Linked DNA regions of Homo sapiens. The protein of the gene in region 2 purifies or fractionates together with the protein of the main gene of each other region. This does not show direct contact. Each region holds a gene or a part of one and is shown on either strand. Other genes may lie near its edges.

Region 1 (4,729 bases), about 45 Mb from region 2:
AATATTCTTAGCACGATTGGCATACCGTAATGTACTGATAGTTTCATCATAATTGTAATCTGCTGGCCCAATATTTGCACACTATTGAATTAGAAATATGAAACAAATCATTTTACACTTGACAGAGTTAAAATTAATACTACCATTACAAATACATCAAAAACATTTAAAGCACATATGCACCCTTGGCCTTCTCGAAAATGAGAGTGTCAACCACATGAGTTTCCAAAGGACACTATTATGGGCTAATACACGAGTGTACCACAAAAAGGACAACCACAAGTCAAAAAAAGTAAAATAATCAAGTTTAAAAAATGTGATACGTATCAATTATTGGCATAAATTACAATCTTAAATTTGCCTGATGTTAACTATATCACCAATTAAGTCTTACCATCATGGTTTTTGAATTTCCTCCTAAGGAATCCTGAAGAAGACGAGTCAGTTTAGAGTTACGATAAGGCACATGAGTGCTTTTTCCATCAACCAAGGCAGAAATTACATTACCAAGGGTGGAAAGTGAAAGATTGATTTTTGTAGCTTCCTTTAGGCGCTGTCCAGTAGCTCCAGTTTTTGCCTGTCTTTCTGAACCCTAGCAATAAACAGAGATGAAAGTAAAGCTAAAATTTTTTTAAAAATAGAATATTCTTCCCAAGGTTTTATTAAAAAGTAATGTAACAGTAAAAAACCTGATATGATGCCTGAATTCACTTCAAAATAATATAGGAAAGGAAGAAGTGGGGGAGAGTACATGAAACAAGATTAGCCATGAGCTGATTGTTGGGAGTTGGGTGATCAGTGTATGGGGGATCACTATACTATTCTATCTACTTTCATATACATTTGAAATGTTCCATAATAAATAATAAACATACACAAGTAACACCTTAAAAATCATATGTAAATCATACCTTTTCACTTTAATTTTCATTCATTTATAAAATAAATGGATCACAAGAAAGAGTTATTCCTTAAGCAGTGTCCTGTTACTTACAGCAAGATCTACAAGATGGAGCTTCCCCATCCTGACATGCATGTTACCATCAATGCCTTTTTCACTGCATTCTATAGTAATTGTAAAGATGGCATGGGAACGGGAACTATGTTCGTTCATATTAGTTGCACCAACAGAACCTTTAATAAATAAACGAAATCCTTTAAAAGTGTAACAGAGAGTGCCTTTAAAAATAATTAAACATCCTGAACAGTTTAAAACACTTAATTTTATCACAATCAAAAGCCAGAGAGCATGGCTAAACCATAAAGGCATGGGTGTGTACTTAGCCACTACATGAAATTTCTCTTATACTTTGTTGATAACAAATTTGTAAGGTTTCTCATATTAAAGACATAACTTTAGCAAAAAATAATTTCAATCCCTAGTAATACTGCCTAAAAAATAACTAATTTACACCAAAAAACCACATTAATTGGAAAAATTATTGCTGATTTAGCTATCTAAAGAGAAGTATGCATGCTGGTGTACTGCAGGAAGTAAAAAACAATAATAATAAAGAGAATTTTAGCTACTTGGGAGGCTGAGGCACAAGAATCACTTGAATCCGAGAGGTGGAGGTTGCAGTGAGCTGAGATTGCGCCACTGCACTCCAGCTTGAACATATAAACCACAGGAATACTTGCACACATATGTTAGACAATACAACAATATTCAGTGCAGCATTAAAAAAAATAAGGTAGATCTAAAAACGTGGAAAAATGTCCATAACATATAAATTAAAAATAAAAGCAAGTTAGAAAGAAATACATAACATAATCCTACTTCTGTAAAAAAAAAAAATCCATTCAAAATATGCAAAGTATTTGCATATGTGTAAATATATGAATATATTGTGTAAACAAAAAACATTTTTTTACAATAGACCTGTATTAGTTTTTTTCTTAAATTCCAAAGTATTTTAAAGTTAATTTTACTCAATGCCAAAATTATCTTCCTACTATACATTCATGCAGCATTTTTCTGTGCAAGCTTTGATTTTATAATTGAAACATTAAAAGGGTAATCTTTAATGAAGTGACCAAAAGCTCCAATTAACTACCTGAGAATTAAATTAATTTCATTCTATGAATGAAATCTTGTGTTAAAATTTTTAATTAAATAACCAATAATTAACATATTTCTGGTATTTGTTTTTTTAATAAAAGCATACAGAAAGCATAAAGTGAAAGCTCCTGACATTCCTTTTCCCCAATTTTATTTCTCCTTCTCTAAAGGTAACCACTACAATCTGTCCTTTCATTCTGTATTTTATATACATACGTGTAGACACAAACACACACACACTGCCCAAATAAATATATGGTTTAACAATTTTTCACATATAAATAAATGGGGTAAGGCAGTACATACATACTGTTCTACAATTTGCTTTTATCCCCCCACTGACAAACATACTTTGAAAATCTTCCAGCTCTGTGTAGGCACATTTACCTGACTGGGTTTTTTTGTTGTTTTGTTTGAGACAGGGTCTCCCTCTGTCACCCAGGCTGGAGGGCAGTGGCACAATCTCGGCTCACTGCAACCTCCACCTCCCAGGTTCAAGTGATCCTCCGGCCTCAACCTCCTGAGTAGCTGAGATCACAGGTGCGCACCACCACGCCCAGCTAATTTTTGTATTTTTAGCAGAGACGAGGTTTCACCAGGTTGGCCAGGCTGGTCTCAAACTCCTGGCCTCAAGTGATCCATCCGCCTCAGCCACCCAGAGTGCTGGGATTATATGCATGAGCCACCACACTCAGCTTGTTGTTTTTTTTGTTGTTGTTTTGTTTTGTTTTTGAGACAGAGTCTTCCTCTATTGCCCAGGCTGGAGTTCAGTGGTGCTATCTTGGCTCACTGCAACCTCTGCCTCCCAGGTTCAAGCAATTCTGCTGCCTCAGCATCCCAAGTAGCTGGGATTATAGGCGTAAGCCACCACGTCTGGCTGATTTTTTTGTATTTTTAGTTGAGATGGGGTTTCGCCATGTTGCACAGGCTGGTCTCTAACTCCTGAGTTCAGGAAATCTGCCCACCTTGGCCTCCCAGAGTGTTGGGATTACAGGCATGAGCCACCACACCCAGCCTAACTCATTGTTTTTAACAGCTTTATTACAGTCTATGGTATTTTTGTGTCATCATTTACATAATCAGGGTTTTATTGAAGGTTATTTAGATTGTTACATCTAAAAATATTTTCCAGAATGTCTAAAATTAGAAACACAGAGTCAAAAGGAATGTATTTTAAAATGTCAACAGATACTGTTAACAATGCCCTTCAAATAGGCTGCACCAATTTATATTCCATCCTCAGTGCCCATTTCTTCAAAGTCTCACCAACCTACATATCCTTCATCTAATCTGATGGGTGAAACATCTCTCTCTATCTTGTTTTAGCATTTTCCTGATTAGTTGTGAAGTTAAACAGCCTTTCACATACTTATTGCTGTGCTTAGTTCTTCTACGAATAACATACATATTTTTTGCTAATTTTTCTATTAAGATTTGGTCTTTTTCTATTAATTGGTTCATAAGAATGTAATTGATTTTTGAAGTTTTGTTGTTTGATTTCCTTGGGTTTGATATATCTATCGTCAAGTCACAGAAACTTATAAAAATTTTTCATTTCCTATTTCTCATCTTTTACCTCTAATCCCTCTTTTTTTCTTTTTTTTTTGGTTGCTGTGTTGCCCAAGTTGGAGTGCAGTGGCGCGATCTCGGCTCACTGCAACTTCTGCCTTCCTGGTTAAAACGATTCTCCTGCCACAGCCTCCCGAGTAACTGGGATTACAGGCACCCACCACCACTCCCAGCTAATTTTTGTATTTTTAGTAGAGACGGGGTTTCACCATGTTGGCCAGGCTGGTCTCAAACAAGTGATCCACCCACCTCAGCCTCCCAAAGTGCTGGGATTACAGGTGTGAGCCACCGCGACCAGACTTTTCACCTCTAATTTCTAATTGCTATTAGCTGCATCACCAGTACTAGGTTTGAGGCATCTGTATAATATCGCTGAAGCTTCCTACTCTTTAGACTAAAAATGTGACACAATTACTAAAAAGAATACAATTTTTTAATTTAAATTTTGTTTTGCTTTTCTTGTCAACAAAAGGGAAGCATTACAGTGCCTAGTTAATGCAGACTACTGGCCTAGGTTTTTTGGGTTTCTTCCAGGTGGGTTTCTTTAGGACAGGGGCTCCCTATTGTCCAGGCTGGTCTCAAACTCCTGGCCTCAAATGATCCTCCCAGTTCAGCCTCCCGAGTTGCTGGGATTACAGGCATGAGCCACTGTGCGTGGCTATGGCTTAGGTGTGATCACTCACTCTACCACTTAGTAGTTATAGTACTTAGACAAGTTACTTAAACTAAGTCTCACTTTCTTCATTCATAAAGTAAGAATTTAATGTCTTCATAGTCTCCTGTGAGGACTAAGAGAGCATCTTTATGAAGCACTTAGCACAAGCACTCTCCACTAAGAGCTCAATAAACATTACCAATTTTACTATTATAGCTACCAAGAGACAGCCGTATGAGAGTTGCATAGATTGGCGCTACTAAAAAGAAACAAAATTTTGCTCGGCATGGAAAATGATTTGTGGTATCTTTCATTCATCTATGCTCTCTACATGGTAAATAATCAAAGTGGAATGGTTTTCAAGAAACCTAAAAAATCCAGTCTCTACAGGGTAAAGTGCCATACCAAATTTGCTTCTAAACCAGCCTACTCAACACACAGAT
Region 2 (5,439 bases):
GCTCTCTGCTGAGGAGTTATCTGTCCACAGAGAGTGTGAGTGTCATGGAGGAAGAATGAACCTGGGCGCTCACACGGGCACCTTCAGGGGGCTGGTTCCCCGGAGGGTAAAACAGACACACAGAAACGGAATTTCAAGCATACCAGGATCAACAGGCAGAGTCCCATGCCCCTGGGCCCTAAGAGGAGCAGGAGGTCTCATGACACAGGGTGGGGGTGGTGACCCTGCCTTGCCACCCAGATCCTCTGTGCCATCCAGACGGAAGAGCTGCACGTTGAATATGCATAGCTTCCTGGAGAAGAGCTGCACGTTGAACATGCATAGCTTCCTGGAGAAGAGCTGCACGTTGAACATGCATAGCTTCCTGGAGAAGAGCTGCACGTTGAACATGCATAGCTTCCTGGAGCATGTCATTGTTATTGCCTAATAAGACCTGGTCTTTCTAGCATCCCCACCGGACCTGTCTTTGCTTTGTAATTTTTAAAATTATGCTTTGGTAAGACACAAATTTCTCATGTTTGTATATTCTAGCATAAAAGGGTTACAGAAGACATACATTTGAAAGTGAAAAACAGTGTATATGTACACACACACACACACACATTCATATGTGTACCTTATTTCAAGATTGGAAAATATATTTAAAAAACAGAGGCTCGCTAAATCATGTCCTCAAACCCTCCCAAGTGAGCATGGCCCTGAAATGTCTTCAAGGGTTTGTTTTGTTGGCATTTGGCCCAAGCCAGTGCCCTCTACATACAGAAGCCTCCAACCTCATCTTGAAAAAGGGGGCCATGAGGCCACCCCAGGCCCCCACAGAGGCTGAAGGACCCCTGGAACTGGAGGCCCCCAGACCCCCCAGAGGCTGAAGGACTCCTGGGACTGGACACATTTCAGTGCTTCTTGGATCCTGCCGTGTCCCCTGCTTGACACCAGGACCTACTGAGGGCCTGCTGGCCTGCAATACTGGGTCGGGTGGGCTGCTCGCTTGTGTGACAAGGAGCCTGGGGGTGCCTCCATCCCTCTCACACCTTTCCCAGGAGGCCTGAACCAGGGGGATTCATGTCAACCCTAGTGTCTCCTCAGGATGAACTAGTGATGCTCCCTGTTGTCCTCAAGGGGCTGGGAAGACAGAGCTAGGTCCCCCCAAATGAGATGTTGGTGAGCTGAAGAGTTACTGCAGACAACACAGTGCAAAGCCCTTGGAGTCCTGCACATGGGGGTGCGACCAGCACCTCAGTGTCTCCCTCACTAAGCAGCCTGTGGAGGGCTCAGCCCAGCAGGCTCAGGGGCTGCTATGGAGTGGGTGTCTGTTTCCTGGAGCATGTTCTCAGGGCATCCTTCACTTGCCTTCAGAGGTCTCTAAAATATATTAAAAATGTCCCAACATTTCAGGACATTCCACCGGCTTTTCTTGCTGGGCTTCCTGGTTTTCTTCTTGGGCTTTCTGGTTTTCCTGATGGGACAACAAGAAAGTGAGCGTAGCCAAGAAGAACATGGGCACGTGCCCACTTCCCTCATCATTCTGCCCACTGCACACTCACACTTCCTCTTCCACTTTGGTCTTTTCTGTTGCTTCTTCTGCAGGTGCAGAGGAAGGACTTGCTGACATCTGTGAGGAAGAGAACAATTGTGCATGTCCAGAGACGCCAGTGCAGGAAAAGACCTATCTGTGAAGGCGGTGTCCAGAGCAGACCCAGATGTCACTGGGGGGTCCCTCCAGCAGGGTGGGGTCCAGCTCTTCTGACCCCAGCCCAGCCCCCTCCCCTGGACCCTGTAGGGTTGTTCAGCAAGATTCAAAGCTGCAACCTGGGGGCCAGTAAACAGGGCAATGCCAAGGCAGTGGGCAGGAGGGCTGGAGAGGGATTTTATCGACACTGAAGACCCGAGGACCTCAACTGTGGGATGAGACCAGGTCCTTCAGGAGAACAATCACAAGAGAGGGAAAGAGGAAAAGGACTAGAGCTAAAAAAGGAGCTCATGAGTCAGAAAGAGGATAAAAGACAGCCAGCATATAAGAGGAGATCAATTACCTGCTGGTGGCTGCCTGTAATGGTGGAGTCTTCCAATTCTGTGAAGCAAGCATCAGAGTGTCCGGAGGAGCAGCGGTGATGGGGTGGCCATAAGAAGGAAAGGGGAGAGTTAGAGTCGAGAGAACCACTCAGACCCCGCTGTCCTGGGGCTGTGGAGCCAACCCCAGAGCCTCTGATGTGCTCATTTCTGGAGCCTTCTCCACAGCCTGTATCATTTCCTCTGTGCTATGAGGGAGGGACCTCTGACTTCCCATGTACTTTCCCAGCCCTCACATTCCATAACTGAGCCAAGGGAGGGGAAGCCGTGTCATTCTGTTCCTCCAAGAGGCAGCGCCCTCTTCACAACGTTGTGCGTGACATGGAGTTCCCTCCCTTCTCCTCCTGTAGGGCCTGTTTCTGTTCCCGCATGAATCCCATTTCCTTTCACCCTGTGGACCTCCACCAGTCCTACTGTTCTCCAAAATAAGAACACTGGAAAGAAGGTCAAGGCTGCACTGCCAGGGCCTCCAATCAACCCACGGATCGCACCCTGGGTCAGCAGCACCTCCCACAGGCCTGGGGTTGTGTTGGGGCCTGCGGGAGGTGATGATGGCCGATGTCACTTATACAGTGACTGTTCTATGCCTGGAGTGACCTTAGAGACTTGGAAAATATTCAGCCCTCAAAAGAATCCCAGCAGCTTCTGAATATTTGGAAACAATGGAACAGAATTCAAGGTAAAGCTCCTTGTCCCAGTTGCCTTAATCTGCAAGTGAGGCCAGCAGTTGCCAGCACAGAAATGAGGGGACCCTCCCAGGGTTTGCCTGAGCTGTGGGAAGACTAGGAGGGAAGGTACCTGGAAGACCTGACACAGAGAACAATCTGGGCCTGACTGGAGTGTGGGGAGAAGGACAAGGCTGCTGAGCCAGAGAGGAGGGTGTGACAAGACAAGTGACTACTGTGCCAGCTGCCCAGAGGCTCTGCCCTGGGCCCAGTGGATTCCAGGGACCAGGCTACAGGGAGGGTGAGAGCCACTGCCTACAGCAACACAGCAGCCCCTCCACACATATCCCTTAGGATTCCTGCCAGCCACAGAGGGCCCTGAGCAACAGCTAGACTTGGGCCTCTCCAGTGAAAGCCAATTTAGGTTTCATTCAAAGCACAGGGATTTGGGATTGGATGGGATTGGGTGAGGAGTGGAGGCCAAAACTGTGCTCAATCATGTGTTCTGCCCTCAGGACTCCAGGATGCTGGGGCACACGTAGGAATCCCAGAGGAAGGATTCCCTGTGTCATCCGACCCAGGGAGCACCCTTAGAGCAGGAGCAGACAGTGAGGACAGGACAGGAAGGTGCTGTTGCAGGTCCCAAGAGTGTAGAGAAAGACAGTGGGCTCCTTTCACCTCCTGGCACACGTATGAAGGACTTTGTCTTCAGGATCACGTAGCGCCTATGTGGGGCTGTGTCCCACCCCACACTCAACTTTACACCTGCATACTCATCTTGTGATCTCTATTCACAAAAAAATGCTACCTCATCAAAACCCAGGGCTCTGGTGCTTACTGTGGCAAAGGCAGGAATGATCTGGTCTTCTGCAAAATGTAATATTTAAACACCAGAGCAAGAAATGATGGTGACATACACAACTCGCACAAAGCCCATGAGAACAAAACTCTTAGGACTTTCTCATTAAGATACAAAAAATCCCAAGTCAGACTTCTACACCTGTTTCATATTTAGTCACTTCACTGATCCCATCCTAGGCTCCAAAATAAGTGTAACCCAATTCCCAAGAACCCTGTCTCACTGGTCAACCCTGGAGTGTTGGTCCCTACCTGACCAGTCTATTTCCTCCTGGATGGATCCAGAGGTGGTGCCCATGAGCCCATGTACAGAGACACAAACATTAGTACTACTGCTCTGTCCACTGTGATTCTCCCTGGGCTCTGTGAACTCAGGGGCCTTTATGAAGGCACTGCTCACAGTTGTGAGCCTTCAGGTAAGACAGAGGACCTGAAATAATCCCTTTCAACTGTTCACCGACACTGGCTCATAGCATCTCTTACCTCCAATCTGAGAACCTGAGATTCCAGCCTTGATGCAAATGCACTGAGTTAGGTGGGTGCAGAGAACAGAACCTGGGCCAGACTCACAGCAGCTGCTTCCCAGGTGATTCTGGGAGAATGGAGATGCTCTCTTAAGAGTAGACTTTTGGCAACTGGGAACTTCTAGCATGGCTCTTGTGAGGAGGTTATGAATTTTTTCATTTATTTTAACATGAATGGGCACATATGCCACTGAGGACCATACTGGAATGCACAGGTCTAAACCCAAAGATGAGGAAGATGTGACTCTCCCCCCTGGTGATTCCTGGCAGAGTGGTTTGCTGCTGTGATCTGATCATTCATGGATGGGTACTTCAGGGGCACAGGAACAAGCTCCAGGCCCCCTGTGAAGTGCAGGGATGCCACAACAAAAATAAAAAAGCCTGGTCCAGCAAAGGAGGACTCGTAAACAGAAAAACAGCCTCTTCTGCAAGGAGAAAAGCTGAACCAAAGTAGCCAGGGTAGAGATGAGGGGGACACTTCATTGACTTCAGGAGCCCACCCTATTCTCCTGTGACCTTGGATCAGAATCCACTAAGGTTTCTAAATTACTATGAGAAACAACAGATTGAAGGAGATGAGCAGGAAGCCTTTTCACACTGGTGCTGGATCTCAGCAAAGGGTTTGGAAGCATTGGAACATTACTGGGGCCCAAGATGGGCTGCCCAGGGCTAAGCTCTGGGATGAGAAGGAACGAGGAGGACATAGTCCTTCCCCTCCGTGACCAGCCATGGCCAGGATTCATCTACACATAAGTAAAGCAAAACAGAGTTTAGGACTAACAATTCCAAGACTATCTCAGAGAAAAGGCAAAGTGATGTCTTATACATCACACAGGAGAGTTGCAAGGACCACCTGGACTCTGGAGCAGCCCCACTCCCTTTGCTGAGTTCACCTTGCACTGAAGCAGGGTCTGTTCTCACCTCCTCTGCAACTAGTGTGGGGCAGGTATCCTGCCTGATGATTATTTCATTAAATACAATAGAATATGCCACTGATTATTGTCTGCTTTTGAAAAGGAGCTGAGGAATGATTTCACCATTCTAGACCAAAAGCCTGAGGACTGTGTGTGTTTTACATTAATGATCACACTAAAGCCCACTGTGCAATGTACCTACTCAAACAAACCCTGGGTTAGCTGACCATTGAGACCATCTGATAACGATAGTGTTTGGGATCTGAATAGCTTTTCATTCTCCCACATGCACACAGAATTGCTGGAATAACTTGGCCTAGCAAGAAATTATACCAGGGCTTTGTGACAAATTCAGTGTACTAGCTCATGGCATTAACCTTCCACTCATCCCCGAGTTCACATGTGCCT
Region 3 (4,729 bases), on a different chromosome or scaffold from region 2:
GGCCAGGCATGGTGGCTCATGCCTGTAATCCCAGCACTTTAGGAGGCCAAGGCTTCCCAAATTTTACACAAGTTATTCCTAGAACACTTTCCCCAGCTCTATGAATGGTTAGTTCCATCCTGCCTTTCCGACATCTGGTAAAACATGACCATCTCAAAAAAGCCTTCCCTGTCTACCCAATCTAACGTGGCTACTCATCGTTATTCTCCAACACCTTAAATCCTGTTATGATCTCAAAATCAATCACTATATGAATTATCTTGTTTCTTCATATTGTGTGTGTTGGTCAGGCATGGTGGTTCATGCCTGTAATCTCAGCATTCTGGGAGGCTAAGGTGGGCAGATGGCTTGAGTCCAGAAGTTTGAGACCAGCCTAGGCAACATAGGGAGACCCCATCTCTGCAAAAAAATTAAAAAAACTAGCCAGGCTTGGTGGCACATGCCTGTAATACAAGCTACAGCTACTCAGAATGCTGAGACAGGAGGACCACTTGAGCCCGGAAGGTCAAGGCTGCAATGAGCCATGATCAGGCCACTGCACCCCAGCCTAGATGACAGAGTGAGACCCTGTCTCAAAACAAAAAGTATATAGATAGATAGATAGATAGTGTGTGTGTCACCCCACTAGAATAGGACAAATGACATAGTCTTGTTCAGTCAATAAGAGTGCCTAGAGTGGAAGAAGTCAATAAATATTTAATCAATCGATGAATGAATTAGAAATAATAAACGTGACAGAAGTTACTCAAAATCTAGAGTACCTACATGTTTATATCTAAATGTCTTGGCTCTTTTTGAAAATGGTTCTAAAAAATACAGTATCCTTGGGCATACTCTATGCAAAATCCTATATAAGGTATGAAACCTAACACTTCCCCACTCACACGAGGAAGTCAGAAAACAGCTAGCAGATGATAGCAGATGAATATAAATACACATGTTAAGCACAAAGTGAAACACTGGTTCAGTGTTTTTACATTAAAAAAAGAAACCAGCACTTGAAACTGTTTTCAAATACTAATTTCAGACATAAAGGAGCAAAAAAGCATATAAAGCACCCCTCTGGTAAAAGAGTATGTCCTGACTGAGTGTGGGGGCTCACGTTTATAATTCCAGCAGTTTGGGATGCCAAGGCAGGTGGATCACATGAGGTCAGGAGTTCGAGACCAGCCTGACCAACATGATGAAACCCCATATCTACTAAAAATACAAAATTGGCCGGGCGCAGTGGCTCACGCCTGTAATCCCAGCACTTTGGAAGGCTGAGGCAGGTGGATCACAAGGTCAGGAGTTCGAGACCAGCCTGACCAACAAGGTGAAACCCCATCTCTACTAAAAATACAAAAATTAGCCAAATGCGGTGGCATGTTCCTGTAATCCCAGTTACTCAGGAGGCTGAAGCAGGAGAATCGCTTGAACCCGGGAGGCGGAGGATGCAGTGGGCTGAGATCGTGCCATTGCACTCCAGCCTGGGCAACGAGAACAAGACTCGGTCTCAAAAAAAAAAAATTAGCCGGGCATGGTGGTGCATGCCTGTAATCCCAGCTACTTGGGAGGCTGAGGCAGGGGAGTCACTTGAAATTGGGAGGCGAAGGTTGCAGTGAGCTGAGATCACACCATTGCACTCCAGCCTGGGCAACAAGAACAAGACTCCATCTCAAAAAAAATTAAATAGGCCAGCCACGGTGGCTCACTCCTATAATCCCAGCACTTTCAGAGGCCGAGGCAGGTGGATCACCTGAGGAGTTTGAGACCAGCCTGGCCAACATGGTGAAACCCCATCTCTACTAAAAATACAAAAATTAGCCAGGTGTGGTGGTGGGTGCCTGTAATCCCAGCTATTTAGGAGGCTGAGGTGGGAAAACCACTTGAACCCAAGACGCAGAGGATACAGTGAGCAGAAATTGCGCCACTGCACTCCAGCCTGCTAACAAGAGCAAGACTTTGTCTCAAAATAAATACATAAATGAAGGGAAAGGGGCAAAAAAGCATATACAGCACTCCTCCAGGCCAGCCGCAATGGCTCACGCCTATAATCCCAGCACTTTGGGAGGCCGACGTGGACGGCATGGTGGCATGCACCTGTAATCCCAGCTACTCAGGAGGCTGACAGGATAACTGCTTGAACCCAAGAGGCGGAGCCTGCAGTGAGCCGACACCGCACCACTGCACTCCAGCCTGGGCAACAGAGCAAGACTCCGTCTAGAAAAAAATAAAAAATAAATAAAAATAAAGCACTCCTGGCTGGGTGCAGTGGCTCACAGTTGTAATTCCAGGAGTTTGGGAAGCCAAGGCAGGAGCATCACTTGAGTCCAGGAATTCAAGACCAGGCTGGGCAACACAGCAAGACCCTGTCTCAAAAAAAAAAACAAAAAACAGTATGCCCCATTAGAAACACTAAGTCTGAAAGAGTCCAGCTCTAGGGATTAATCAAACTCTAGATAGTTCTCTAGTGATCTAACTGAGCCAGTATCATAAAACTATGCGGACAGAACCGAAGATTAAAAGAACAATGAATTAGCAGGCTCATACAGGCTTTTTTTTGTTACATTTATTATAGAATGAAACAGAGCCTTGCTCTGTCGCCCAGGCTAGAGTGCAGTGGCGCAATCTTGGCTCACTGCAACTTCTGCCTCCCAGGTTCAATCAGGCAATTCTCCTTCCTCAGCCTCCTGAGTAGCTGGGACTACAGGCGCCCGCCACCACACCCAGCTAATTTTTGTATTTTTAGTAGAGATGGGGTTTCACCATGTTGGCCAGACTGATCTCGAACTCCTGCCTTCTGGTGATCTGCTCACCTCAGCCTCTGCACTAGGATTACAGGCATGAGCCACTGTGCCTGGCCCTTGGGTAAATTTTCAATGCAACACAATTTCAACAATAATGATGATGGTAAAAAAGCACAAAATACACACATTTTAGGCTTCTTTTCCCTTCCTGATCAACCTTTGCCTAATGTCACAAAAGCATGAGTTTCCTTTCCTATCATTTATAATCCATCATAATTCTACTCAGATGCTTAGATAGATGCAGAATAAAAAGCACCAGAAATTAACCAGATATGAAAAGGCTTTTACTGTTTTATTTAACATATATCTTTAAGACACTGATGTTGTGCATTCAAGTTTATATTATGGTAGTAGTAACTGAATAGAATTTTTAACACTTTGAAAATGTGGATACTCGTTTATAAGTGTTCTTCTATGTAGTTAATATTAATAGAAACTTTTAAAAATATAACCACTGAATGTGTAACAAACTTCCCTTTCCTCAGAAACTTCCCTTGGTAAAATAGCATTATTCAAAACTCCTCAAACAGGTTTATTCTATAAAGAAAATTATGCTATTTACAGAAAACAGTAAATCTAAAACAAGTACAGTGCCCATCAACTGGGTTCCTAATCGGACTAGGGAAGGGGCTCCATCAATTATACAGCTAACACCTCCACGTCAAAAGAAGTACAGGAGATACAGGAGCTACAAGGAACCAATCTTGTCTTTTATTTTCTACTTTTCTATCAAGGTATAACATATACAGTAAGTCAGTCTACATATTTTAAGTGTACACCTCCCTGAAATTTTACATATCAATTCACCCATGTGACCACCACTCAAAACAAGACAGACTATTTCCAACACCTCAAAAGGCTCCATTGTGTCCTCCTACAGGTAGTTATTATTCTGACATCTATCATGAAAGATTATTTGAGCCTGATTTTGAGCTTCACATAAACAGAATCATAAAGGTTCTCTTTCAGAGTGTTTGTCTTCTTTTGCTCAAAAGTACATCTGTGAGGCCAGGCATGGTGGCTCATGCCTGTAATCCCAGCACTTTGGGAGGCCACGGCGGGTGGATCACTTGAGGTCAAGAGTTCAATACCAATCTAGCCAACATGGCAAAACCCTGTCTCTACTAAAAATACAAAAAATTAGCTGGGCGTGGTGGCACATGCCTGTAATCCCAGCTACTCAGGAGGCTGAGGCACAAGAATCGCTTGAACTGGGGAGGCGGAGGTTGCAGTGAGCCAAGATCCTGCTACTGCACTCCAGTATGGGTGACAGAGCGAGATGCTGTCTCAAAAAAAAAAAAAAAAAAAGTACATTTGTGAGATTCATCCCCATTGTTGCATGTATCAGAAGTTTATTCTTTCTCATAGCTGTGCTGTTTTCTGTAAGCATGCCTCAATGTATTTATCCATTCTACTGCTGATACATAGTTGGGTTATTTCTAGTTCTGACTTATTACAAATAATATTCTTAAACTGTATACAGTATATTTCTGCGATGGACAAATACATCCATTTCTACTGGGCATATAACACAGGAAGTCATGTTATATTTATGACTTTATTAGGAACCACTGAACAGTTTTCCAAAGTGGTTGTACCATTTTGTATTACCATCTACATTTATACAACCCACCATACGTGAGTTCTTTCTGCTCCTCATCTTGCCAAAACTTGGTACTATTGTTCTCTTCAACTTACTCATTCTGGTGGGGTGCAATGGTTTTGGTATTTTCTTAAACATACTTCTTATTTACTCTTGCTTCATTGATACTGTTATTCTCCCAATAAATTATTCCTAAAATTGTAATGACTACTGAATTCAGAGATGTTGTGAATTACTATTCAGTCAAGAACTTGCTACCAAAGTTCATTTAGTCTTATTTGTCTTCCTTCTCCCTCCATTTCTTTTTTTTTTTTCTTTTTTTGAGACGGAGTCTCGC

What was found. Proteins that work in one complex are often made in the same cells at the same time.
Region 1: the proteins of FAM153A (region 2) and KIF3A purify together in Homo sapiens (affinity purification with mass spectrometry; one large-scale study listed by BioGRID and IntAct). This does not show direct contact.
Region 3: the proteins of FAM153A (region 2) and EDC3 purify together in Homo sapiens (affinity purification with mass spectrometry; one large-scale study listed by BioGRID and IntAct). This does not show direct contact.

What each region holds. Positions count from the first base shown.
Region 1 is NC_000005.10:132,715,851-132,720,579, forward strand, and holds part of KIF3A (kinesin-like protein KIF3A), read right to left. Parts: intron 1,135-4,729; coding exon 995-1,134; intron 593-994; coding exon 395-592; intron 82-394; coding exon 1-81. UniProt on the Homo sapiens protein: Microtubule-based anterograde translocator for membranous organelles. Plus end-directed microtubule sliding activity in vitro. Plays a role in primary cilia formation. Plays a role in centriole cohesion and subdistal appendage organization and function.
Region 2 is NC_000005.10:177,722,751-177,728,189, forward strand, and holds the end of FAM153A (protein FAM153A), read right to left. Parts: intron 2,072-5,439; coding exon 2,034-2,071; intron 1,613-2,033; coding exon 1,545-1,612; intron 1,457-1,544; coding exon 1,363-1,456; 3' UTR 614-1,362; downstream 1-613.
Region 3 is NC_000015.10:74,684,829-74,689,557, forward strand, and holds part of EDC3 (enhancer of mRNA-decapping protein 3), read right to left. Parts: intron 2,352-4,729; exon of another isoform or gene 2,263-2,351; intron 1-2,262. UniProt on the Homo sapiens protein: Binds single-stranded RNA. Involved in the process of mRNA degradation and in the positive regulation of mRNA decapping. May play a role in spermiogenesis and oogenesis.